4 linked regions of the Homo sapiens genome follow. The protein of the gene in region 1 purifies or fractionates together with the protein of each later gene. This does not show direct contact. Each region holds a gene or a part of one and is shown on either strand. Other genes may lie near its edges. The genes, in order: RBM34, LIN28A, DDX27 and STAU1.

Region 1 (7,025 bases):
TGGCACCCAGGCTGCAGGTTTTGTGGTTGCCTTTGACTCTTCATTGGCTCACCCATGCTAGTGTTTGCCACTCCTGTCCGTTTTTCAACTGTGATTTCTTCCTAATATGAGTCATTCCTTTCTTTTTTCCTTGTCCTACCTAAGTTCTCATTACCTCCTGTCAGAATAGTCGCAGAGGCCTATTGTAGTTCCTTACCTTCAGTCTTCCTCTAATTTGTCCAACAAAACACTGTGAACTCAGTCTTCCTGAAGCTCTTCTTCCCGGAACCCTTACCTCTTTCCCTGCCTTGCATTAATGAAACGCCCTTCCCCCCATCCCCCCAGCCGCCACACACACACCCCTCACGGGGCCTGCTATTGCCTTCTCCCCTTTGGGGAGCCTACCTTGATTCTCCCCAGTCTCTAGGCTACCAGTGTGTCCCTGCTATGCATTTGACAGCACCCATCCCTCATTACAGTACTTAGTACACTCTACTGAAATTGTCGTTTGCCTCCTCCACCAGACTGTAAGCTGTGGTTACAAATACTCTGTCTTACTTCTTCTTGGGTTACCAGCACCTGTACATTGTGTTAATTATTCTGTCAGTGAAATACATCCTTAATTCTTAGCTTGGCAGTTCTCCAGTGTGGCCCTGCCTCTCCTGTGTTCCTCTACACGTGGGTTTTCTCACCTTTGTCCCTTTGCCAGTCCATTTGTTTTGCCTGGAATCCTTCCTTAAAGTACCATTTTTGCCTATGAAAGTATTTTTCAGTATGTGGCTAAAAATGTCCCTTCTTCAAAGCTTTTCCGATACTTTATATCATTAAGTGATATTTTTTCCTCTGCATTATTCCTGTACTTTATTGCCTTATGTTGTACTTATGTATTAATATCTTTAATGACAGGATGTAGGCCGGGTGCAGTGGTTGATGCCTGTAACCCAGCACTTTGGGAGGCCAAGGCAGATCACTTGAGTTCAGAAGTTCGAGACCAGCCTGGCCAACATGGCAAAACTACGTTTCTACTAAAAATACGAAAACTAGCTGGGCATGGTGGCGGGGGCCTGTAATCCCAGCTACTCGGGAGGCTGAGATGGGAGAATCGCTTGAACCTGAGAGGCGGAAGTTGCAGTGAGCCGAGATTGTGCCACTGCACTCCAGCCTGGGCGACAAAGCGAGATTCTGTCTCAAAAACAAACAAAATAAAACAAAACCAAACAAATAACGGGACGTAGACGCTGTACAGAAGGCACCCAATAAATGTGTTTTGATGATGTCATTCACATGTTGATTATTCATTTAGCCATTTCTGTGTCTTGTACTGTTTTTTTGAGGTTTGAGAGTTTGACTATGTTAGCAATTTTAGCAAGATAAACTGCAAACAGAAGAAATAGTTAAAATTTCATAGTTTTACTATGTAAACTATCAGGTTACTGAGAAAGAAAATAGGTTTTCCAGAAAAGATTTATAATAACTACCCTACATGGCATTTATGTTCTAGATTGTGAACTTGCAGGGTTGGTATCTTTTCACCTTGATCTTCTCAGTACCTGGTTGCATTTGGCATGTTGTCGACAGCTGTAGTTGTTGACGTGTATTTCTGCCTCTTCCATAAAGTTTTCCCTACCTGCCCCATCCACTCTTAAAGGAGGCTATATATGACTGGAAATAAAGTGAACCTGAATATAAAGGGGATTCCCTTACCTGCATGATGGACACCATGCATTTTTTTGGCTAATATATAAACTCTTAGAGATACAGGTGATATGTCTTTTTATATTATTCATCAGTTCAGTTAGACATATTTAAAAATTTATTAGAATACACGATAAAATGTTAATTTATAAACATTTCTTTTTCCTTAACATTTTTCCTTTTTTTTTTTTTTTTTTTGAGACGGAGTCTCGTTCTGTCGCCCAGGCTGGAGTGCAGTGGTGCCATCTGGGCTCACTGCAAGCTCCGCCTCCCGGGTTCACGCCATTCTCCTGCCTCAGCCTCCTGAGTAGCTGGGACTACAGGCGCCCGCCACCACGTCTGGCTAATTTTTTTGTATTTCTAGTAGAGATGGGGTTTCACCGTGTTAGCCAGGATGGTCTCAACCTCCTGACCTCGTGATCCGCCCGCCTTGGCCTCCCAAAGTGCTGGGATTACAGGTGTGAGCCACCGCGCCCGGCCTTTTCCTTACATTTTTCATGTGTCTTTCATCGTCGGTGTCTCTTCCTGGAGTCCTCCCTGTAGGAGTCATCTGATGCAATTTGAGAGCCCGGTATCTTAACTTCTGTCTGGGTTTTTGAGTCCCTGCCTGTTAAATCTGAGCATGATGGTTTCATTGGAAAAACTTATCCTAAGCCACGAGCTTCGTTTCATATAGCATTAAGATGATTGGCCAGCCGTGGTGGCTCATGTTTGTAATCCCAGCACTTTGGGAGGCCAAGGTGGGCGGATCACGAGGTCAGGAGATCGAGACCATCCTGGCTAACCTGATGAAACCGCATCTCTACTAAAAATACAAAAAATTAGCCGGGCGTGGTGGCGGGCGCCTGTAGTCCCAGCTACTCAGGAGGCTGAGGCAGGAGAATGTTGTGAACCCAGCAGGTGGAGCTTGCAATGAGCCGACATCATGCCACTGCACTCCAGCCTGGGTGACAGTGTGAGACTCCATCTCAACAGGAAAAAAAAAAAAAAATTAGGACAGTTGTTTCTGATTTGTTTATTTCCCTAGAATGTTTTTGATCACAGTGTACTGGAGTTAGATACTTAGACTTCACTTAAAATATTAATTTGAGGTAATACTTCAAATACTGTCTTTAATACTTTTTTTTTTCTCTTGAAAGATTCCAGCAGAGGGAACGCTATCCAAAAAGTTGGCAGCAATAAAGTAAGTTTATAATTAGAGAAAGGGAGTCACCTTAAACTTTCTTCCTTTTTGGCTAAAAAGTGAGACCATTTCTTAACAATTGCATAGATTTTATTAATATATTTGGATAATAGAGCATGATTGACTGTTTGCTTCTGTATTTGAGAGCCTTTAGATTTGTCACGTTTTTCTTTAAGCCATAATATAATTTACAGAGTCGTAGAAAATATTACTGGAAAATGAGCCATGAGAAATTTTAAGAATGTTTTTAGTGTTTGGAAGAGAGTGTAAAGCTTCATGCCTAAATTTTCTCATACAGATTACAAATGCCATATTTCCTGTGTTTTTCCAGAGAGAATTCATGTTTGCTTGTGCTGGTCACCTGGGTATACTGCCAGCCTGTGACCACTTGGCGTTCTCTGTTTGAGGGTTTTGGACCACACTGGTGGTGGCTTGTTACCAGTGCTCAGGGGATTTTTTTTGTTTCCCACTCAGTGTCAAGAATGAAACCTACAAGTCTCCTTGTTCGCCCTTCCATATGGAAGGCTTATTTTTCATTTACCTTCAGCTTTATGCCGGTTTCCTATTAGTCTCATATCTTGGGTGTTTTTCTCTCTTAATGGTATATGAAATGATGAAGTTTATAAGCAGATATTTCTTTATATTAGATAAAATATAATAATGTACTTTAGAAACATTTCTGGGAATCCTGTTCTATCAAGCTTTTGTATGGCAACAGTCCCTTTGGACATCTTGGTGACTTCATTTCAATATTGAGTCTTCATTTGGAGTTATTTGGCCGACCAGGTCTTCGCCGGTTTTTCCTCATAACCATCACAGTGCCAGGTGTATAGTTAAGAGTTGATAAATATATAGATTCCCACAGTGTTTGCTGAGGTAACCAAAGATGCAGATCCTCCTAGATACCAGGCATTGTTCAGTGCTGTGGTGACTAGAAACCTTAGTAAGATACAACCCTTCTTTTTGAGTCATACTTTTATTTCTGTATGAAGTTGAAACCCAGGAGCCTAAATTTGAACAGAAACAGAGGTTCTGACAGGTGTATGTACAAGTACTACTGAGGAGTTTAGTGGGATATGTTAGAAAATTGGAATTTTCACACCATACCGTCAGCTTCTCCTCCAGCCCCATCTCATTGTTTTTTTGTTTCTTTGTTTTGTTTTGTGTTTTTAACATACAAGCTCTTGCTCTGTCACCCAGGCTGGAGTGCAGTGGCAAGATCTTGGCTCACTGTAGCCTTAAACTTTTGGGCTCAAGTGATGCTTCCATCTCAGTGTCCCCAGTAGCTGGGACTACAGGTGTGCACACCACCCTGGCTAATTTATTTTATTTTATTGTAGACACAGAGTCTCATTATGTTTTTCAGGCTGGTCTTGAACCCCGGGCTTCAAGCAATCCTTCTGCCTCAGCCTTCTAAAGCAGTGGGATTATGAGCATGAGCCACTGCCTTTTTGTTGTTGTTTTTAATTTAAAATTTAATGATGGCTGGCTGTGGTGGCTCACACCTGTAATCCCAGCACTTTGGGAGGCCGAGGTAGGTGGATCACTTCAGGCCAGGAGTTTGAGACCAGCCTGGCCAACATGGCAAAACACTGTCCCTACTAAAAATAGAAAAATTAGCAGGGTGTGGTGGCACATGCCTGTAGTCCCAGCTACTTGGGAGGCTGAGGCAAGAGAATCGCTTGATCCCAGGAGATGAAGGTTGCAGTGAGCCCAGATCACGCCATTGCACTCCAGCCTTGGTGACAGAGCTAGACTCTGTCTCAAAATAAATAAATAAATAAAATTTAATTATACACCTTTTCTCTAGTCAGCCAATTCCCTACCCTAGGCAAGTGTTTTTAGTTTCTTATGTAAGCTTCTAGAGACATCTTAGCATTTAAAAACTGATACGCATAGATGTTCTTCTTCCCACATAAAACAGTTTAACTCACTGGTATTTAATATATGCACTACTCCACACCTTCCCTTTTTCTGCTTAGTACAACTTGGAGATCTGTTTATATTGGTGTGAAAGTGATTATTTTTATAGCATTTTTTAAAAATGCCCTTTTTCTTAGAGTATTCTCTAGGTGTGCCTTAATTTATTTTATCAAATCTCCCACTGATGGACATAAAGTTTTTTCCCAGTCTCATGACCATTACAAATAATGCTGAAGGCCGGGTGCAGTGGCTCACGCCTGTAATCTCAGCACCATTAGAGGCCAAGGTGGGCAGATCGCTTGAGCCCAGGACCTCCCTGGGCAAAATGGCAAAACCCCATCTCTACAAAAAATTAGCTGGGCATGATGCTGTGCACTGTAGTCCCAGCTGCTTGGGAATCAGACGAAGGAGCACCTGAGCTCAGGAAGTGGAGCTATGATTGCACCCCTGGCACTCCAGCCCGGGTGATAGAGTGAGACCCTGTCTTCCAAAAAAAAAAAAAAAAAAAAAAAAACCTGCTGTAATATTTTAGCTGGTCATGGAGGCACGTGTCTGTAGTCCCAGCTACTTGGGAAGCTGACGTGAGATGATCACTTGAGCCCAGGAGCTTGAGGCTTCAGTGAACTGTGATCACACCACTGCACTGTAGCCTGAGCGACAAGCAAGACCCGCTCTCTCAAAACAAAACAAATAATGTTGGAGTAAATGAGTGACCTTGTACTTAGGTAATTTTGTACATAAGCTAAACTTATCTGTAGGATAAACTTCTAGCAGTGGCATTGCTCAGTCAGAAGGGTATTTGCATTCACAATTTTGACTGCTGTCTCGTAGAGATTGCAACCTATTTATGTTCCCACATCTTTACCAACAGTAAAGTCTTTTACTTTACAAAAACAGTATGTTGGCCAGGGAAGATGGCTCATGCCTGCAATCCCAGCACTTTGGGATGCTGAGGTGGGTGGATTGCATGAGCCTAGGAGTTCGAGACCAGCCTGGGCAGCGTGGCGAGACCTCATCTCTACAAAGAAACAAAAAAATTAGCTGGGCAAGGTGGTGCACGCCTGTAGTCCAGCTACTCTGGGGGCTGAGGTGGGAGGATCACTTGAGCCCGGAGAATGGAGGCTGCAGTGAACCATGATTGCACCACTACGCTCCAGCCTGGATGACAGTGAGACCCTATCTCAAAAAAAAAAAAAAAAGTATGTTTTTGAGCTTTGTGGTTGTTGGAAACCTGAGTGTGGTATTTCTAATTTGAATTTCTCTTATGAGTGAGCATCTTGTCATGTAATTTAAGAGTCATTTGTGCTTTCTTTTATTTGAATTATTAGTCTTATTGATCTGTGGGATGTTCATGAAATCAGTCTTTTGTGACATGAATTATGAATATTTTTCTCTATTTGTCATTTGCTATTTGTTTATTTATTTAATTTATTTTTTGAGACGGAGTTTTGCTCTTGTTGCCCAGGCTGGAGTGCAATGGCGTGATCTCAGCTCACCGTAATCTCCGCCTCCCTGGTTCAAGTGATTCTCCTGCCTCAGCCTACTGAGTAGCTGGGATTACAGGCATGTGCGCTACACCTGGCTAATTTTGTATTTTTAGTAGAGACGGGGTTTCCCCATGTTGGTCAGGCTGGTCTCAAACTCATGACCTCAGGTGATCTGCCCCACCCTCGGCCTCCCAAAGTGCTGGGATTACAGGCATGAGCCACCGCGCTGGGCCTTATTTTATTTTTAAGAGATAGAGTGTTGCTTTGTTCTCCAGCAGAAGTGCAGTGACTCAGTCATAGTCCACTATAGCCTGGAATTCCTAGGCTCAAGTAATCATTCTGCCTCAGCCTCCCAAGTAGCTGGAACTACAGGTGCACACCACCACACCCTAGCTTGTTGGCTTTTTGACTTGGCTTATGGGAAATTTTGCCATGTAAAACTTTTTTCCTTTTTCTTATAGCCAAAATGTTTAAAACCTTTTTTTTTTTTTTTTAGTTTATTAAGGCTACTTCCAGTAAACTGCACATATTTGACATGTACAATTTTATAATTTTAACATATGTAGGCAATCTTGAAACCACTGCCATAGTCCAGATACCAAACACTTTATCATCTCGAGTTTCTTCTAACCCTCTGCAATATGTCCCTCCACCTCTGTCCTCAGGCAGCCATTCATTTGCTTTCTGTCTCTATGTGTTAGTTTGCTTTTTCCAGAATTTTATATAAGTAGAGTCATCATACAGGATATACTCTTGTC
Region 2 (7,025 bases), about 210 Mb from region 1:
TCAACAAGGAGTAGTCGTCATAGAAAATGGAGAAGCAAAAGGGATCACTGTGCACTTACCTAGTCCTGGCTCAAGGGAACATGAGTAAGTAGCATTCGTATTTTATGCTGGTGGCTGGGGGGTAATATTCCAAACTGGAACTTAAATGAAACATGCTCTTCATCAAGATGAAGGAACCACAGATTCCTTATCACTTAATTTTTTTTTTTTTTTTTTGAGAAAGTCTTGCTCTGTCGCCCATGCTGAAGTGCAGTGACACGATCTCAGCTCACTGCAACCTCCGCCTCCTGGGTTTAAGCGATTCTTCTGGGTTTAAGCTAGGACTACAGGCGCACGCCACCACACCCAGCTAATTTTTGTATTTCTAGTAGAGACAGGGTTTCACCTTATTGGCCAGGCTGGTCTCAAACTCCTGACCTCATGCCTCCTAAAGTGCTGGGATTACACACCATGCCCGGCCAAATTTTTGTTTTAAGATGATATTGCAGGCCGGGTGCAATACCTCTCTCGCTGTTTCACAGTAACCACCCTGAGTTTAAAGTTAGATTTGTAAGGTCGGGCATGGTGGCTCACAACTGTAATCCCAGCAATTTGGGTGACTGAGGCAGGTGGATTCTGAGCTTGAGGCTCAGGAGTTGGAGACCAGCCTGGGCAACAGGGCGAAACCCTGTTCTCTACAAAATAATACAAAAATTAGCTCAGCATGGTGGCATGTGCCTGTGGTACCAGCTACTTGGGAGGCTGAGGTAGAAGGATCGCTTGAATCTGGGAGGCAGAGCTTGCAGTGAGCTGAGATCGCGCCACTGCACTCCTGCCTGGGTGAGAGAGCAAGAACCCATCTCAAAAAATAAAGATTATATTAGATTTGACTTATTTTTTATTGAGCGGGGTGGGACAAGAGATGCAATTAGTGGGTGAGTTGGGAGGTCCTAGAGGAGCCAGACCAAGAGCCTTCTGGACCCAAGCAATTCCAGCTTCATTTGCTTGCCCAGCTTGTCTTAGGCTGGGACACTCCTAGTTCTAGCTGTGATTCAGCAGGTAAATAGTTAAGAACAAGGGTTGATTGAGTCTGATGGCCTGTTCCCTCCTTTCTTTAATCATCTATAAAATGGAGTAAATACTAATTTTATGGTAGTGCTGTGAGGTTTTACACATGAAAAGTAGTTAGCACTTCGCCTGCTACACATAAATCCTCAGGGAGTGGCAATTATCAACCTCTTCACACTGGGTGGCGTGGGTTAACAGAGAGAACTAAGTGCCAAGCATCTGGTTTTATCCTAACTAGCTATAGAAACTTAGAAGAATATCCCCTCTCTAAGCCCCAGTTGACTGGAGAGTAACACCTTCCTCTATGGACACCTCATAGGTTTATTTTAAGAGGATCATATAAATGGGGACATGCAACAAGAAATTGACTAGTCCTCTCAGGTCACTCACTGCATCACTGGAGGATCTGAGGTCTAAGACTTTTACAGAGTAAACCCCCACCCCTGCAGGTACCTCAGTGTAATCAAGAGATTTAAACTGGTGGTCTCCAGGGGTGGCTCCCTGCCCTCCTCCCCCGCCCCTTTCTAAAACACATAGTTTGAATTCCTCTCTTATCAGATAGGTAATCAGCGTGCAGCCCCACAGAGCCAGCCTCCCAGGGCCTGCATCTGAAAAGCGCCTGAAATTCTTGTACCACCCCCATTCCACCCCCAACCACACACAAAGCAGGGCCCCGCCCCCTTCCCCATCCCCTCCAAAAAGAAAAGACCTTAGGGGGAGGGGCATGGCCTGAGCTCCCCCAGTAGAGCCCAGCCCCAGGAAACAAAGAGTTGACACTGGCTGGTTCTGGTGGTCAGATTCCTGGAGTTCCAAGGAGCAGATCCCTCTTGCATCTCCCTCTCCCTCCTCCCCACATTCAACTGTTTCTTCCTTCCTCTCTATGTTGGGGTTATGGTCACGGGAGAGAACTAGATATAGAAAATTCTTCCTTCCCCAGGCAGTCTTGCCAAAGTCACCATCAGCAGCCATCTCCCTTCTCTGGCTTGCGCACTGCCCACTTCATGGATAGAACCAAACAGGACCCCCTCCCCTTGGGTCTCTTCAGTCCAATCCTGAATTATTGATTCAGATAAATTATTTTAAAGGGGAGGGGGAGAGAAGGCATGACCCATATCATCCTTTCCCAATTTCTTCAAGTTAGGACTGTGGGGAGCCTACATGGGCCTACTGTGTTGGGGAATGTGGCATCAGACAACAGACAGCATTTCTTTTTCTTTTTTTTTTTTTTAAAAAGTCTGGCTCTGTTGCCCAGGCCGGAGTGCAGTGGCACAATCTCGGCTCACTGCAAGCTCCGCCTCCCGGGTTCACGCCATTCTCCTGCCTCAGCCTGCCGAGTAGCTGGGACTACAGGCTCCTGCCACCATTCCTGGCTAATTTTTTGTATTTTTAGTAGAGACGGGGTTTCACCGCGTTAGCCAGGATGGTCTCGATCTCCTGACCTCATGATCTACCCGCCTCGGCCTCCCAAAGTGCTGGGATTACAGGCGTGAGCCACCGCGCCCACCCCAAGCATTTCTTTTTCTTTTTTTGATAACAGGGAAGGAATCTCTCCAGTTAAAGTACTTAGGCCTTCTGATCCCTTCTTAATACCTCAGTAATTGCCTGCCTTACCCTATCCAACCCACACCAAGTACCTCATCCCAGCTTCAATTTATGCCTTTGCAAGCTTAGAGATAGAATGAGCCTTAGGGGTCACTTAGGAAATGTGGAGTTAAAAACAAAAGAAAACATTATAAAAGAAAAAAGTATGAAGAGAAAAAAAAAAAACAACACAAAGGAACCTAAGTGTCCTTTCTCCAGAAGTGGCAACAGAATTTCAGGGTACTTGCTACAGTTGTGCAGATTAAAGCTGGGGTTCTTGGCTCTTCCGCAAGAGGCTATTCCAGATCTTCTTCCAGGGCCATTCCAGCCGGAAGATTCTGTAGTGCAGGTCTCTACCTCAATTCTAGGTTCTTAGCTTGCACAAGCATTTGTTGAATGTCTAAGTACTATGCAAAATAACTGTTACTAATTGATTCTTACTGTAGGCTAAGTGGCATTCTAACCACTTTACGTGTTGTAACTCATTTAACCCTCATATCAAACTGGTGCAGTGGGGTGATATGAAGACCCTCATTTTACAGCTTGAGGACATGGAGGCAGAGGGGTTAATAAGCACCTTGGTTAAAGTCGCAATAAGAGGCAAGAGCTGAGCTGAGTGCAGCTGGCCTAACTCTCCCCAGTGCAATTCATTATGATGCAAGTCACATATATAATTGAAAACTTTCTAGTAGCTACGTTTAAAAAAGCAGCTGATGAAAGTAATTTTAATGATTCAGTCCTGTGGTGTCACATCCCTAACTTAGCTTCATTCCTGGAGGTAAGATTTGGTAAGGGAGAACCAACCGGTTCTCCCAGAAGCAGTTATTCGATGGTGTGTGTGTCAAGGAGGGTGTGTGTCAAGGAGGTTGGTGAAAGGGGTGTCTGGAACAGAAGGCTGCAGGCAGCCAATCCCTCTGATCCCCTCTGCTCAGCCACAGCCAGGCCCTGTAGCTCCTGCCTGGAGTTCTCCACCAGATGGCGCTGCTCAGCCTGTCTGCCCAAAGGTAAGCCCGAGGGCGCCTATACCAGGAGGTACTGAGTGGCCCGCTACCTGGTCTGAGCTGTGAACTCAAGTGTTCGGGTAGATTTATCTCCACAGCTCCTTAGGGCAGTCATCTTGTCCTCCCCGTCCCACCCTGCCCCCACCCAACCACCGGCTTGATCAGGGATAAGAATGAAAGGTTCCTAGACTTTTAGGCCAGAAACTCAGTTCTTATATTCTACTGCTTAGAAAAGCCAAGTCCTGTCTAAATTAAATAACACCACGCTGGGCCAGTCATGGTGGCTCATGCCTGTAAATCCAGCACTTTGGGAGGCCGAGGCAGGCGGATCACCACGAGGTCAGGAGTTCGAGACCAGCCTGGCTAACATGGTGAAACCCCATCTCTACTAAAAATACAAAACATTAGCCGGGCATGGTGGCAGGTGCCTCTAATCCCAGCTACTCGGGTGGCTGAGGCAGGAAAATCGCTCAAACCTGGGAGGTGGAGGTTGCAGTGAGCTAAGACGGCGCCACTGCACTCCAGCCTGGGCAACAGAGAGAGATTCCGTCTCAAAAAAAATAAAAAACCTCGATGGTGAGATCATGTTAAATAAGTCTGTATCAACTGTGTATTCTCCCCCAACTCCTTTGACCTCCCACTCTGACTATGTGGCCAGTGGTTGCTATTCATGCCTGCAGGAAGACAGGAGGCATAGTTTTACCTAGGGCAGTTACTCCAAAAAACAAGAATTCCAGTAGAGTGTGATTAGCAATGTTCAAAAAACTAAATGGCCCTGGTGAATGTTACTGAAAACCACTTGTAAGGCAGGCAGCAGTGTCAACAACCAGAGGGTAGAAACATCCCATATTTGAAGCTTTGTTCAGGATGGTGTCACAGCCTTTACTTTACACTGTCGCCGGGCATCATGGCTCATGCCTGTAATCCCAGCACTTTGGGAGTCCCAGGCAGGTGGATCACTTGAGGTCAGGAGTTTGAGACCAGCCTGGACAACATGACGAAAACCCTTCTCTACTAAAAATACTAAAATTAGCTGGGTGTGGTGGTGTACATCTGTAATCCCAGCTACTTGGGAGGCTGAGGCAGGAGAATTGCTTGAACCCAAAAGTCAGAAGTTGCAGTGAGCCGAGTTCGTGCCACTGCACTCCAGCCTGGGCGACAGAGCAAGACTCTATCTCAAAAAATAAAAATAAAAATAAAAAAAAGACATTGTCTAGAAGCATGTCTCAGAAAGAAGAGGACCCCAGAAGATTCCACAATGTCTTCATGAACCTTCCTACCTCTCTACCAACTTTCTGAAAAATCGAGTCAATTTATTTTTAAGCTGCCTTTTCTTATTAAGACAGAAATAACTCATGGATGACCACTAAATCCGTGGCTTCCACTCTGTCAACAAAAACGAGAGGAACCTCTCTGGGCTCCGAGTGGTGATCTACCCATATTCACTCCACAAACTTTCATAGTGCTATGTTGTGCCCAGGCCATATTCTATGTTGTGCCCAGCCCAGAAAGCGAGCAGCTACAATTGACACCCCTCAGTATCTCTAGTCTTTTTCTCTGAACAAAGATCTCTGCCAACATGGACCCCAGACTGCTAAGTGTACTTCTGATTCACCAAGGTCCTCAAGATGCCCCTTTTCTTATTCATTCCTCAGCCCACCAAATGCATACTAGAAAATTAACCAGGCAGCTAAGTTCCTCCCTTCAAAGAGCTTATGGGTTACATAGAGAAGGGTATAAGACCAGTACCTCAATAACTAGACATGAGGTGAGTAATCAGAGGTGCAGTGTTACAAACCAGGAGGAAAGATTCCGTATATTTCCCCACCCGCCCCCGCAACCCTAACACCAAACCCAGCAGTCCTAACCTAGACCCTGAATAAAGTTGCTCTTACCACCTCCTCACTCATGGCTTTTAGAAAAAGAAGGCCACCTGGCTACAGGGCAATTTCAGCAGTTGTCTAGGTATTGAAAACCTTTTCTCCTAACCCAACTTGGTCCCTTGGTCAAATCTGGGCTTTTGACTCCAAGTCTTCTAATATAGCATTTTAGCCAGAAAGCCAATTTAAACATATTTGAGATTGAAACATATCTGGGTCCTGAGGAGCTATGGGAAAGCAGGGAACTTTTCTTATTTCCAAATTTCTATAAATCTTGAGAGTTTGCAAATTGAGCCACAGGAAACATGAGTTAAGCCAAAACTCTTAAAATGGCCCAAAATGAGGATTTTTGAATTCTTGATGAATCTCAGGAAAATAGTTGACAGTTTAGCTTTCTTGTTCCAGCTTTCCTATATAACTGTGTTTCTCAAGCAGGGATGAGATTTTTGACTCCAAGGGGACATTTGACAATGTATGGAGATGTTTTTGGTTGTCATACCTAAGATGCAACTGGCTTCTAGTGGGTAGAGACCAGGAATACTGCTGTACATCCTATAATACATAGGACAGACTCCCCAGAACAAATTATCCTGCTCAAAACATGTCAATAGTGCTGAAGTCGAGAAACTCTAATTTAAGGGCTTGCTATCTATTTCCCTAACTCTAGAGACAGGCAGATTTCTAGATCTAAAGATGTGTACCTAAGGAAAAGAGTTGTTATAGAAATCTCTTTGCTTTTTGTTTTGTTGTCGTTTTGCTTAGTTTTTGGCTGGGGGTGGGCTTTTCCCCCCACTCATCTACTCTTGAAGAGGATATTACAGCATTTGGGAGAGAGCATAAGAACATTAGTTAACAGGGCATTGGGATCCTAATAACCCCAACTTTGGAAAGGAAAAGAAAATGTTTTTAAATTGCCTTTCCCCCTTCCTCTTTATTTGCAAAGGGGCTCCCTGACCCCCTCCCTCTGGTAGATGCTATCTTAGGACAATTACCTTCTCACCAGCCCACCCCAACCCCAGGGTGCCCAACCCCAGCAGCCAAAGAATGGGAAGTTTTGTTAAAGATTTCTTACCCTCTGCTTCGGGAACACTTTCCTCCTCCCCCAGTAAACAATTTATCCTGTGTTTACTAAATTCCTTTACCATAAGATTTCCAGAGAGTCATTTCTAATTTCACAAATGCAGAAGAGTGGTGGCTCATGCCTGTAATCCCAGCACTTTGGGAGGCCAAGGCGGGCGGATCATCTGAGGTCAGGAGTTCAAGACCAGCCTGACCAACGTGCAGAAACCCCGTCTTTACTAAAAATACAAAAAATTAGCCGAGCGTGGTGGCACATGCCTGTAATCCCAGCTACTCAGGAAGCTGAGGCAGGAGAATCGCTTGAACCTGGGAGGCGGAGGTTGCGGTGAGTGGAGATCATGCCATTGCACTCCAGCCTGGCCAACAAGAGCCAAACACCATCTCAAAAAAAAAAAAAAAAAAAGCAACAAACAAACAAACAAACAAACAAAAAAAC
Region 3 (7,025 bases), on another chromosome or scaffold:
TGTTCAGTACCACGAAAAAAATGTTCATAGTTTTCAGGTTTCATTTGTGAAGGTTGGTTAAGTCTCAATCAAATCCCACCCACCTAAAGCACTATGAAAACATGTCGGCTGGGTGCGGTGGCTCATGCCTGTAATTCCAGCACTTTGGGAGGCCAAGGCAGGCGGATCACGAGGTCAGGAGATCGAGACTATCCTGGCTAACACGGTGAAAACCTGTCTCTACTAAAAATACAAAAAATTAGCCAGGCGTGGTGGCGGTAGTCCCAGCTACTGGGGAGGCTGAGGCAGGAGAATGGCGTGAACCCGGGAGGCGGAGCTTGCAGTGAGCCAAGATTGCGCCACTGCACTCCAGCCTGGGCGACAGAGCGAGACTCCTCCGTCTCAAAAAAAAAAAAAAAAAAAAAAGTCTTCCAGTTTTTAAGTGGATTCAATCAACACAAAGGCCTCTCCTGGCACCTGTCACCAACACCAACAGATGGCGGGGCACATCCATCCTCCACCCCACCACAGTCTCTCAGGGGCTGGCAGCCCTTGGCCAGAAACTCACCCACAGCCAGGCAGGTGGTGATGTTGCAGAACTGGGCCAGCTGTCTGGTGACAGAGTGCACCTGGATGCCCAGCTCTCGGGTGGGCACTAGCACCAGCACGCGGGTGACTGGAGCCTGGCGGGGTTTATAAATCAGACGCTCCAAAACAGGCAGGGCAAAGGCGGCAGTTTTACCTGGAGGGAGGGACAGCAAGGAAGCAATGAGAAGAAGTTTAGCTCCCTCCAGGGTTAGGTTTTCACCAGAGCACAGAAAAACTACGTCTGGTTGGGGAAAATAAAGGAACTTATTTTTCATAGAATATTTTTTCTGCTTTCAAATCACATGGTCAGGCTCACATATGTAATCCCAGCACTTTGGGACGCCGAGGCAGGCGGATCACCTGAGGTCAGGAGTTCAAGACCAGCCTGGCCAACATAGTGAAGCCCCAATTCTACTAAAAATACAAAAAACTTAGCTGGGCATGGTGGCGGGAGCCTGTAATCCCAGCACTTTGTGAGGCCAAGGCAGGCGAATCACCTGAGGTCAGGAGTTCGAGACCAGCCTGGCCAATATGGTGAAATCCTGTCTCTACTAAATATATAAAAATTAGCCAGGCTTGGTGGTGGGCACCTGTAATCCCAGCTACTCAGGAGGCTGAGGAAGGAGATTCACTTGAAGGCAGAGGTTGCAGTGAGCTGAGAACGCACCACTGCACTCTAGCCTGGGTGACAACAGCAAAACTCTGTCTCAAAAAAAAAAAGAAAAAATACAGCCAGGCACAGTGGCTCATGCCTGTAATCCCAGCACTTTGGGAGGCTGAGGCAGGTGGATCATGAGGTCAGGGGTTCAAGACCAGCCTGGCCAAGATAGTAAAACCCTGTCTCTACTAAAAATACAAAAATTAGCCGGGCATGGTGGCGTGTATCTGTAATCCCAGCTACTCAGGAGGCTGAGGCAGGAGAATCGCTTGAACCCGGGAGGCGGAGGTTGCAGTGAGCCAAGATTGCGCCACTGCACTCCAGCCTGGGCAACAGAGCGAGACTCTGTCTCAAAAAAAAAAAAAAAAAAAATTTCCTCCTCTGATATGGCAGGGCCAGGAGGCCATGGTCACAGAGATCAGGGATACCCCAAGAGGATTAAATGAAAATGACCTTCATCAGACCCTTTGAAACTTGTGGCCCACTACTAGACCGGACATCCTCTCATGCACTGTTTATCTTACAAAATTAATCCTTCAGTATGCCAGGCACGGTGGCTCACACCTGTAAATCCCAGCACTCTTGAGAGGCTGAGGCAGGTGTATCACTTGAGGTCAGGAATTCGAGACCAGCCTGGCCAACATGGTGAAACCCTCTCTCTACTAAAAATACAAAAATCAGCCGGGTGTGGTGGCGGGCACCTGTAAACCCAGCTACTGGGGAGGCTGAGGCAGGAGAATCACCTGAACACAGGAGGCAGAGGTTGCAGTGAGCCGAGATTGCGCCACCGCACTCCAGCCTGGGTGACAGAGTGAGACTCCATCTCAAAACAAAAAATTAATCCTTCAGTAAACTGAGTAAGCTCTGCAGTCTAGGAAACACTGTTGTATCAGTGCCAATTTCCTGGTTTTGATTTTGTCCTACAGTTATGTGGGATGTCACCATTGATGAAGGATTCGAGAGACCCTATGCACTATTTTTGCAACTTGCCACTGATCTACAAATACTTCAAAATAAAGTGGTTAAAAATTTAAAAGTCCTTTACTCTCGGCCGGGCGCGGTGGCTCACGCCTGTAATCCCAGCACTTTGGGAGGCCAAGGCGGGCGGATCACGAGGTCAGGAGATCAAGACCATCCCGGCTAAAACGGTGAAACCCCGTCTCTACTAAAAATACAAAAAATTAGCCGGGCGTAGTGGCGGGCGCCTGTAGTCCCAGCTACTTGGGAGGCTGAGGCAGGAGAATGGCGTGAACCCGGGAGGCGGAGCTTGCAGTGAGCCGAGATCCCGCCACTGCACTCCAGCCTGGGCGACAGAGCGAGACTCCGTCTCAAAAAAAAAAAAAAAAAAAAAAAGTCCTTTACTCTCTCAATTGCACCAGTATATCTTTTTTGTGTTACAAAAATTTTATGGCCAGGCACAGTGGCTCATGCCTGTAATCCCAGAACTTTGGGAGGCCAAGATGGGAAAATCGATCGCTTGAACCTGAACCTAGGAATTCAAGACCAGCCTGGACAACAAAGTGAGACCCCTATCTCTACAAAATAAAAAATAAAAATGAAATAGTTCAAAAAACCAAGAATATTTATTTAGCAAACCAGCCTTTGGTAAGTCAACCTAGAGCCCAGCCCTGGCCGTAACACCCTTCTGCCCACCCTGGGTCCCTATCCTTTTCACCTGTCCCAGTGGCTGCACAGGCACAGATGTCCTTCCCCAATAGACCCACAGGTATGCACGCCTTCTGGATCGGGGTGGGCTGCTTGAAGCCCATGGCTGTAATGGCCTGAGGAAAAAAGAACTGGGTCAGACAGGGTTGAGCGGGGGAAGTCTCAGCACAACACAAACAGGGCAGGTTTCCAGACAAGTGGGGACCACACCAATCCCCACCAATCATTCGTTCCACAAACATTCACTGAACGCCTACTATGTGTGAGGTGGTGCTCTAGACACTGAGGACACAGCAGTAAATAAAAGAAATAAAAACCCTGCCCTCAGGAATCTTACAGTCTGGTAGAAACAGACCAAAAAACAAACACATGTCATATGGAGAGATGCTGCGGAAAACAATGCAGCGGCCAGACGGGCAGCAGGGGGAGTGCTATTCACGGTAGGGCTGCCAGGGAAGGTCTCACTGAGCAAGGGATACTGAGTTGAACCCTGAAGGAAGCTAGAGAGCACCCCAAAAGATTTCTGGAAGAGTTTTCCAGGCAGAGGGAACAGAAAGTGCAAGGGCCCTGAGGAAGAGGAGGCCTAACCTATTTGAGGGCCAGCAAGGAGGCCAGTGTGGCCAGAGCAGAACGAGTGCCAGGAGGTGTCGTCAGAGAGGGCCAGAAGGGGCAGAGCCTTGTAGGTCAATATAAGGACTCAGGCTTCTAAGAAGAGTGAGACTGGGAAGTACTGAAGGACTCAGAGAAGAAGAGGAGGGACACGATGGAACTCATTGCTTAAGAGAGTTCTCGGCCGGGCGCGGTGGCTCACGCCTGTAGTCCCAGCACTTTGGGAGGCTGAGGCGGGCGGATCACGAGGTCAGGAGATCGAGACCATCCTGGCTAACACGGTGAAACCCCATCTCTACTAAAAATACAAAAAATTAGCAGGGCGTGGCAGCGTGTGCCTGTAGTCCCAGCTGCTGGGGAGGCTGAGGCAGGAGAATGGCGTGAACCCGGGAGGTGGAGGTTGCAGTGAGCCGAGATTGTGCCACTGCACTCCAGCCTGGGCGACAGAGTGAGACTCCGTCTCAAAAAAAAAAAAAAAAAAAAGGGAGTTCTCTGGCAACTGTATGGACAAGAGTTGAGGGAGGCAAAGAGAGAAGCAGAAAGTCCAGTTAGGGGTGGCTGCAATAATCCCATGGTTGCCAAAATAAGCCACTACTGGCCAGGCACAGTGGCTCAAATCCCAGCACTCTGGGAGGTTGAGGCAAGAGGATTGCTTGATGCCAGGAATTTGAGACCATCTTGGACAACATAGCAAGACCATGCTTCTACAAAGAAAATTTTTGACAAGAAGCTGCTACCTTCAGAAGAGGGCGGGAAAGGTTCATGTCCTGGAACGAGAGGTTTTCATCGTACTGAGATGCATCTTCAAAAAATCCTCCTGCTTCCTACACCAGAAAACCAAAAGAGAGAAGAGAATTCAACAAAAAGAGCCAAGAAACCCAAACGACCTTAAACTCCTTTCGGTTTGCCAACAAGCTGCATACTGTCTTGCAGCCCCAAGCTCACCTGTCCTTTCTTCTTCTTCTTCTTCCGATCCTTTACTTTGAGTGTATCTATGGAGAAAAACTTAGCTGATGACCACGGCTCAGACTTACAAAGCACTTGCATCCTGCTGGACACTGTCCTAAGTGCCAATGCCACACTTCAGCCTCTGAGGGGTGACCATCGTCAACCTTGTTTCACAGATGAGGACACTTTGTGGCAGCATGGTGAAGTAACTTGCCTAAGGTCAGAGAGAAAGCTAACCCAGTGACTCTGGTCCAGAGACCAGGCTCTCGACCACTACACTGTATTATGATGCTTTAGCACACATTTCTGCAAGAAATACTTATTGAGGGCGGAAGCAGTGGCTCCCGCCTAAAATCCCAGCACTTTAGGAGGCCGAGGCAGGTGGATCACCTGAGGTCAGGAGTTCGGGACCAGCCTGTCCAACATGGTGAAACCCCATCTCTACTAAAAATACAAAAATTAGCCAGGTGTGTTGGCGTGTGCCTGTAGTCCCAGCTACTTGGGAGGCTGAGACAGGAGAGTTGCTTGCACCCGGGAGGCAGAGGTTGCAGTGAGCTGAAATTGTACCACTTGCACTCCAGCCTGAGTGACAGAGTAAGACTCCATCTCAAAAAAAAAAAAAGAAAGAAAGAAATACTTATTGAGCACCCACTATGTGGCTGGACCCATCTGAGTATGTCACCCCAAATGAGTTTGTATCACAGTGGCATCTGGCAGCCGCATGGGGCTAGATGGGAAAAGAGTAAACTACCTATGAAGTACAACAACCCAAACAAAATCCCAAGAGAAAAGAAAACCTAAAAGAAAGGATTCAGCGGGCACAGTGGCTCACGCCTGTAATGCCAGCACTTTTAGAGGTCAAGGCGGGAGGACTGCTCGAGCCTAGAAATTTGAGACTAGCCTGAGCAACAAAGCAAGACCCCGTCCCTACAAAAAAAAAAAATTAGCCAGGCGCAGGGGCATGCACCTGTAGGCCCAGCTACTTAGGAAGCTAAAGCAGGAGGATCACTTAAGCCAGTGAGTTCAAGCCTTCCAGTGAGGTATGATTGCACTACTGCACTCCAGCCTGTGGATGGAGTGAGACCACATCTCTTTTGTTTTGTTTTTTGAGACAGGGTCTCATTCTGTGGCCCAGGGTTAAGTTCAGTGGGACAATCTCAGCTCACTGCAACCTCTGCCTCCCAGTTTCAAGTGATTCTCGTACCTCAGCCACCTGAGTGGCTGGGATTACAGGTGCATGCCACTACACCAAGCTTATTTTTGTATTTTCAGTAGAGATGGGGTTTTACCATGTTGCCCAGGCTGGTCTCAAACTCCTGGCTTCAAGCGATACACCCACCTCAGCCTCCCAAAGTACTGGGATTACAGGCATGAGCCACTGCACCCAGCCAACATCTCTTAAAAAAAAAAAAAAAAGAAAGAAAGGAGTTCAATGTAGTAGGCAGAACAGCTTAAAGATAAACTGTGCAGAAGAGTGGAGGAAACCCTACAAAGTAAAGGAGGATGCCTTCTGATCTCCTGTCCCCATTACTGACACCTCCGCCGTAACGTCTACCTGCTTTGGTGAGGATGTTCTCATCAGCTGATGAGTAGTCAGTCTCCGAGGCTTCATCTTCTGAGCCTTCCTCATCATTCTCTTGAAGGTCTTCCTGCTCCTTTGGTTCAGAGCCTTCCTTTGCTTCTTTCTCCTTTTCCAACTTCCCAGACTTGGCTTCTTTATCCTGGGAAAAAAATTAAAGTGAGGGTGATGAGAAACTTCTAGAAATCCAGAACCTAAGTAGAGCGATAGGAAGCTCTCCGGCCTGAATGAACGGCTGTGGGGATTCTCAGTACAGATTCACAGCAAACACACAGAAGAGTGCGCCTGCCCCAGCCATGCCCCGCTCTATAAGGGCTTCCAGAGAGATGCTGGGGTCGTGGTGAGAGTAAAGAGTGGGCCCTAACAACGAAAAATAGCCACTTTTCTTCTCACCTCTGTTTTCCTTTTCTTTCGAACTTTCTCAATCTTCTCATCTAATGTAGTGGCTGCCCTCTGCAGATAAAAATAAAGAGGTGAAAAAGAAATTTTCATTGAAACATCGAATAAGAGAACAAACTCTTCATAATTAACTTGAAAAAGAAAAAATTTTGGCCTTCTCTGAAAATACATATACATATTATATATATAAAAATTTTAGGCCGGGCGCGGTGGCTCACGCCTGTAATCCCAGCACTTTGGGAGGCCGAGGTGGGTAGATCACCTGAGGTCAGGAGTTCGAGACCAGCCTCAACATGGAGAAACCCTGTCTCTACTAAAAAAATACAAAATTAGCCGGGTGTGGTGGTGCATGCCTGTAATCCCAGCTACTCGGGAGGCTGAGGCAAGAGAATTGCTTGAACCTGGGAGGCGGAGGTGGCAGTGAGCCGAGATCACGCCATTGCACTCCAGCCTGGGCAACAAGAGCAAAACTCCGTCTCAAAAAAAAAAATTTTTTTAATCCTCTCCAGACGATCTTGAAAATGCAGTGCTGGTAAGGCTGAGCACAGTGGCTCATGCCTGTAATCCCAGCTACTCAAGAGGCTGAGGCAGGAGAATCGC
Region 4 (7,025 bases), on another chromosome or scaffold:
TACTACTTACAAAATTTACCTTTGGTAAAGAGCAATGTCATAAACCTTCAAGGAGATGTAATGAAGAAAAACTTCTCCCAGCACCCACCACCCCAGGACTCTTTCTTCCAAATTTCAGTGCAACACACCCACATTCCCACCAGTGCACCCAGCAGTAGTGCTGGTGTGCAGACATTACATTCATTTTTTTAAGCATTAAGATAAACAACTTAATCTTTGATATGTAGCCTTTACAGATTTCTGTGGTATGTTTAAGCTATCAAATTATTGCAAGCCACAAGGTCTTAATAAGGATCACAGTTGGCTGGGCGAGGTGGCTCACGCCTGTAATCCCAGCACTTTGGGAGGCTGAGGTGGGAGGATCACAAGGTCAGGAGATCAAAACCATCCTGGCCAACATGGCGAAACTCCGTCTCTGCTAAAAATACAAAAAATTAGCTGGGCATGGTGGCACGTGCCTGTAATCCCAGCTACTCGGGAGGCTGAGGCAGGAGAATCGCTTCAATCAGGGAGTCGGAGGTTGTAGTGAGCTGAGACAGCACCACTGCACTCCAGCCTGGGCGACAGAGTGAGACTCCATCTCAAAAATAAATAAATAAATAAATAAATAAATAAATAAATAAGGATCACAGTCGCTGGCAGAACATGGCCCACAGGATCCAGCCTCCTCAGGAAGGTGTCCAGACCTTGAACCGCCATCAGCCCCCAAGGCTGGACGTGGTCAGAGGAAGGGGCGCCCATCATCCATGCGGACCCACCTGCATCACAAACTCCCTGCGGCGCGGGAGGCCTCGCTCTGTGAGGAGCGTGTACTCTGGCTCCTTCTCCTTTTTTGCCTGCTGGATCTGGGCCAGTCGGCTAATCGGATTGATCCCCTGGCCATATTCTGGGCTTGTCTGTGGCTGAGGAACAAACAAGGCAGAAACTCTGTAATGTTATTCACCGCATGAACTTGGTCAACTCAGAGATCAGGATATGAGAGGAGATAAGAGATTTTGGGTTGACCTAATGGCTCAGAATTCGATTTTTTTTAATTTAACATTTTAACAATGAAAAGATGCTTTATTTTTTTTATGATTGTTCTAGGTGATTTTAAGGTCTTAGCAAACCAACATCAACATTTCACTATAACGAAGCGTCACTATGACTGCGACGGCTGTTTTTTAACATATTTCAACATATGACAGTAAATGGGCAGAAAAAACATAAAACACTATTCCTACAACTCCCCAAAAGTCTGAGCTATGATGGGTTCCCAATTTTCTTGAAAAGAACTCAAAATCCAGGAACCACTTTTTTAAAAAAGCTCAAGCTGATGCCACATGGCAAGAAGAACCTCAGAATCCCAGTTACTTCCTTGAGGCCACCTTTTGTGCCAAGGAACCCTCACTCTGCTGATCAGAAGTGACTTCCAGGCTATATTAAGCAAAAAAGGGAAACAAAAGGTATACATAGTATGCTTTTATGTAAGAAAAATTTGGATCTTGATACAGCATGAAACTACATATACTGAAAATCACAAAGTTCCCCATGGAATTATGTCCCCTTTCTGGGGTTGGGGAAGGGGTCAATATAATGCTTTGATAGATCCATTAGTGTGGCTCAAAAATCCAAAAGAAAAGGCACACAGCAAAATGTCTCACTCCTACCCTCCCACTATGGGCCTCCTGCCTGGCACAAATCTCCTCCACCTTCAGAACAGCAACATGGTCACTGAGACACAGGCACTGTTATTTCACCACGCGCCCCACAGACCGGCATGGCGTTCCTGCCCAATACCCCACTGTGATCGCCAGGGCTGTGATGAGCGCCCTCCTGCACAGATGTGTGTGCCCGTCTGCGGGTACCTCTACTGAACTGACACAATGTCCTTATCTTACCTAACAGGTGGCTCTTGCAGCACCTCTAAGGGGTCTGGCAGGCCTGGGGTGTGGCACGTTGGTCTCATCCCCTTTCACCTTGGGGACAGCGACCAGCCTTCTAAACCCCCCACCCATCTATAAGTAATGAAAACACCTTCTGTGTTCAGAAAAGTTCTCACCTTGACTATGGGTTTTGTTTTCTTTTTGATTCTAGGCTTTACTCGTTCAACTGCAGGCAGGGGCGGTAACTTCTTCAGCTCCTCAAGAACAGCTATGGCGGCATTTTTCTTTGAAATCTTCTTGCTTTTCCCTTCACCTTCCCCCACAAACTCCCCAACCGAAACCTTGGTCACAAAGTTCTTCATGTGGGGTGGGCCACTCTCCCGGGCCACCTGTTTCAGAGGGAAAGACTGAGTGAAAGCGGACAGACACTTATTAAAAGCTCCAAGGCACACTGGCTGGCACACTTCACACAGACACAGGGAAGGGGAACCAAGGACAAGACCTACTAAATGAAAGGAAGCGGGGATCATTTCAAATGCTTTCTCGCCTTTCTTCTTACTTCTCAAACTGGTTTATGCTCTTGAGTCTGGTGAGTCCCAAACAGTCAGGCATGAAATAGGGAGACCTTTTTACTCCCATGCCCCTGGCTCACAGGCTGTCCTGAGTTTAGTGTGGTCCACTGCAACTGGCAAAAAGGAAGCTAGCCCAGCAAAGTCCAGAAATAAATGCAGTACAAATGCTCAAGTTTAGTATCTGCTCTGAGCCTCCAGCCAGGACTAGGCCTACTAAATACTGGTTGCTATGTGGCCACAAAAGAGAACGAGACAAATCTCTTAAGCACTGATAAAGAGGGATTCCCCGCACACATTAAGTAAAAAAAAAAAAAAAAAAAACCCACAAAAGAGTATATGGTATGGTAGCTTTAGTTTAAGAAAAATAGGATTTTATACAAATATCTACACATATATAAACAGACACACATTTATAAGCTCATTTTTGCAAAAAAAAAAAAAAAAAAAAAAAAAACGAAGGATAAAAAAAATCAATGGGCTGGACATGGTGGCTCACACCTGTAATCCCAGCAATTTGGGAGACCAAAGCGGGTGGATCACTTGAGGTCAGGAGTTCAAGACCAGCCTGGCCAACATGGTGAAACCCCCATCTCTACTAAAAATACAAAAATTAGCTAGGGGTGGTGGTGCACACCTGTAATCCCAGCTACTTGGGAGGCTGAGGCACAAAAACCCCTTGAACCTGAGAGACGGAGGTTGCAGTGATCCAAGATCACAAAACTGCACTCCAGCCTAAGCGATAGAGTAAGACCCTGTCTCAAAGGAAAAAAAAAAAAAAAAAAAAGCAAGCAATGGGCCAGGCGCGGTGGCTCACGCCTGTAATCCCAGCACTTTGGGAGGCCGAGGCAGGTGGATCACGAGGTCAGGAGATCGAGACCATCCTGGCTAACATGGTGAAACCCCGTCTCTACTAAAAATACAAAAAAAATTAGCCGGGCGTGGTGGCAGGCGCCTGTAGTCCCAGCTACTCGGGAGGCTGAAGCAGGAGAATGGCGTGAACCTGGGAGGCGGAGCTTGCAGTGAGCTGAGATTGCGCCACTCCAGCCTGGGTGACAGAGTGGGACTCCGTCTCAAAAAGCAAGCAATGAAATTAGTTACCTACAACAGGTGTGAGGGATTAGGGTAGACAGACGGGATGAGACGGGAATGATAGTTTTGACTTCTGGAAGCATTTACTGTTTTACATATTAAAGAAATAAAACTAAGTCAACAAAGATGGGGAAAGAATCTAAAATTAAACATGAACAGAAAGTTAGCTGCATATTAAAGTGATTACAATCTCCAAATGGACCAAAGACCTACACAGAGGCGCTAACATGCACAACTCTCAGAAGCAAAAACAGGCGAGTCTTCATGACTTTGGGTTTGGCAATTGGTTTTTAAGATATGAAACTAAAAGCACAATCAACAAGAGGGAAAAAAAAAAGTCACACTTAATCAAACTTTAAAACTTTTGTGTATCATGGACATTATCAAGAAAGTGATTACAATAACACAGATAGAAAATCAGGCTGGGCAGGGTGGCTCATGCCTGTAATCCCAACGCTCTGGGAGGCCAGGGTGGGAGGATCACTTGAGCTCAGAAGTTCAAGACCAGCCTGGCCAATACAGCAAGACCTTGACTCTACAAAAATAAAAACAAAATTAGCCAGGTGTGGTAGTGTGCCCCTGTATGTAGTCCTAGCTATGTGGGAGGCTAAAACAGGAGGATCACTTAAGCCCAGGAGATCAAGGCTACAGGGAGCTATGATCACACAACTGCACCCCAGCCTGGGCAACAGAGCAAAACCTCGTCTCAAAAAGCAAAAAAAAAAAAACAAAAAAAAAACAAAAAAACTTAAAAATCTAACCGATATTAGCCAAGACACTCAAAAAGAAAAATAGAAGACTTACACTACCAGATTTTAAAACTTCCTATAAAGTCACAACAACTAGGATATGGTTTTGTGTAAGGATAAATAGATCAACAGAACAGCACGAAAAAGACCTGCACATATAAGGTCACTCGATTTTTGGCAAACACACCAAAACAAATTAAAAATCTCTTAAAAAAATAGTACCAGAGCAACTAACTAGGTATCTGCATGGAGCGGGGTGGGGGGAAGAAAAAAAAATCAAACCATGATCTCTAACTCATACCACAACAAAAATTAGACCTAGGATCACTTAAATGTGATCTAAACTAAAATTACAAAGACTTTATAACAGGAGAAAGCCTCAAGACTGTAAGGCTGGCAAAGAGTTGAACACAAAAGATATCCACCATAAAGAAAAAAGAAATTCCTCAAAATTAAAAACCACTGGCCGGGCGCGGTGGCTCACGCCTGTAATCCCAGCACTTTGGGAGGCCGAGGTGGGCAGATCACGAGGTCAGGAGTTCGAGATCAGCCTGGCCAACATAGTGAAACCCCGTCTCTACTAAAAATATAAAAAATTAGCTGGGCGTGGTGGCGGGCACCTGTAATCCCAGCTACTTAGGAGGCTGAGACAGGAGAATTGCTTGAACCCAGGAGACGGAGGTTGCAGTGAGCTGAGATGGCACCACTGCACTCCAGCCTGGACAACAAGAGCGAAACACCATCTCAAAAATAAATAAATGAATAAAATAAAAAATAAACTGCTCATCAAAAGACATTTAAAAAGTAAAAAAGGGGGCCAGGTGCAGTGGCTCACGCCTGTAATACCAACACTGTGGTAGGCCGAGGCGGGTGGATCACCTGAGGTCAGGAGTTTGAGACCAGCTTGGCCAACAGGGTGAAACCCTGTCTCTACTAAAAATACAAAAATTAGCTGAGTGTGGTGACACATGACTGTAATCCCAGTTACTTAAGAGGCTAACACAGGAGAAATGCTTGAACCCCAGAGGCGGAGGTTGCAGTGAGCTGAGATCGCGCCATTGCATTCCAGCCCGGATGACAGAGCAAGACTTTGTCTAAAAAACAAAAAAAACTAAAAAAGGGGCCAGGCACATTGGCTCACTCTTGTAATCCCAGCACTTTGAGAAGGCCAAGGCGGGTGGATGGCTTCAGTCCAGGAGTTTGAGACCAGCCTGGGCAACATGGCAAAACCCCGTCTCTACAAAAAAAATACAAAAATTGGCTGGGCTCGGTGGCTCACGCCTGTAATCCCAGCACTTTGGGAGGCCGAGGCAGGCGGATCACCTGAGGCCAGGAGTTTGAGACCAGCCTGACCAACATGGAGAAACCCCATCTCTACTAAAAATACAAAATTACCTGGGCGTGGTAGCGCATGCCCATAATCCCAGCTACTCGGGAGGCTGAGGCAGGAGAATCGCTTGAACCCAGGAGGCAGAGGTTGCGGTAAGCTGAGATCACGCCATTGCACTCCAGCCTGGGCAACAAGAGCGAAACTCTGTCTCAGAGGAAAAAAAAAAAATACAAAAATTAGCCCAGTGTGTGGTGGCGTGTGCCTGTAGCCCCAGCTACTTGGGAGGCTGAGACAGCAGGATCACTTGAGCTCAGGAGGTCGAGGTTGCAGTGAGGTGAGATCATGCCACTGCACTACAGCCCGGGTACCAAGTGAGTTCTTTTCTCTAAAATCAAATAAAATAAACTTGTTATTTCAAAATATACATATTTCCTAGCTCTATCTCCTAACCGAGAGCCATGGCTCTCCAGCAGGAACAAGCATGCTAGCACCCTGTCCTGTCTCTACACACCACTCCCAATTAGAAGGAACCGGATCTTCTTGGAGGAATGGCCAAGACCATTTCTATTAGAAATTTATGTTTCCACTGGGGCTAAAGCTAGAGCAGGGGAAGTTCAAAGTGAGGCTAAAACATTTTGTTGTATCAGAAAGCATGGAAGTTCTCAAAATGTGAAGAGGGGAGGTGCAAAGGTTATTTAATAAAGGACTGTCTCAGCCAGGCATGGTGGCTCAAGCCTGTAATCCCAGCCTGGGCGACAAGAGCAAAACTCTGTCTCAAAAAATAAAGGACTGTCTCTTCAACAAACAGTGCAGGCACAATTAGACATCCAAATCCAAAAAAAAAAAAAAAAAAAAGACAAAAACATCCCTTATGTCACAGTATATATGAAAACTAACTCGAAATGAATTATAAACCTAAATGTAAGAGCTAAAACTAAAATTTCTAAGGAAAATGACTTTAGGTTAGCCAAATGTATCTCAGCATACACAAAAATTATTAACTATAAAAAATTTAACAAACTACACCTCACCAAAATTCAATACTTCTGCTTTTTGAAAGTCACTTAAAATCAAACGACAAGCCACAGACTTAAGAGAAAATATCTGCAAAATACTTATCTGAGAAAAAACTTGAATTCAGAATATATATAGAACCTCCAAAACTCAATAATAAAAAGACACTCAAAAAAACTGGCAAGATATAAACCTATATTTCATCAAAGAAAATAGTAAAATAAAAACACGAAAAGAAGCTCAGTATTGCTAGTCTTCATGGAGATATATAAATTAAAACCACAACAAGATACTACTGACTACCTGCTAGAATGACTTTAAAAAAAAATTTTTTTTTTTTTTTTTTTTTTTTTGAGACGGAGTCTCACTCTGTCACCCAGGGTGGAACGCAGTGGCGCGATCTTGG

The links.
Region 2: the proteins of RBM34 (region 1) and LIN28A purify together in Homo sapiens (affinity purification with mass spectrometry; 2 studies listed by BioGRID and IntAct, with this or other methods). This does not show direct contact.
Region 3: the proteins of RBM34 (region 1) and DDX27 purify together in Homo sapiens (affinity purification with mass spectrometry; 3 studies listed by BioGRID and IntAct, with this or other methods). This does not show direct contact.
Region 4: the proteins of RBM34 (region 1) and STAU1 purify together in Homo sapiens (affinity purification with mass spectrometry; 3 studies listed by BioGRID and IntAct, with this or other methods). This does not show direct contact.

What each region holds. Positions count from the first base shown.
Region 1 is NC_000001.11:235,144,236-235,151,260, reverse strand, and holds part of RBM34 (RNA-binding protein 34), read left to right. Parts: intron 1-2,813; coding exon 2,814-2,857; intron 2,858-7,025.
Region 2 is NC_000001.11:26,413,793-26,420,817, reverse strand, and holds part of LIN28A (protein lin-28 homolog A), read right to left. Parts: intron 1-7,025. UniProt on the Homo sapiens protein: RNA-binding protein that inhibits processing of pre-let-7 miRNAs and regulates translation of mRNAs that control developmental timing, pluripotency and metabolism.
Region 3 is NC_000020.11:49,222,411-49,229,435, reverse strand, and holds part of DDX27 (probable ATP-dependent RNA helicase DDX27), read right to left. Parts: intron 6,480-7,025; coding exon 6,420-6,479; intron 6,169-6,419; coding exon 6,003-6,168; intron 4,492-6,002; coding exon 4,445-4,491; intron 4,324-4,444; coding exon 4,237-4,323; intron 3,007-4,236; coding exon 2,901-3,006; intron 722-2,900; coding exon 548-721; intron 1-547. UniProt on the Homo sapiens protein: Probable ATP-dependent RNA helicase. Component of the nucleolar ribosomal RNA (rRNA) processing machinery that regulates 3' end formation of ribosomal 47S rRNA.
Region 4 is NC_000020.11:49,122,334-49,129,358, forward strand, and holds part of STAU1 (double-stranded RNA-binding protein Staufen homolog 1), read right to left. Parts: intron 2,273-7,025; coding exon of another isoform or gene 2,255-2,272; coding exon 2,042-2,254; intron 903-2,041; coding exon 759-902; intron 1-758. UniProt on the Homo sapiens protein: Binds double-stranded RNA (regardless of the sequence) and tubulin.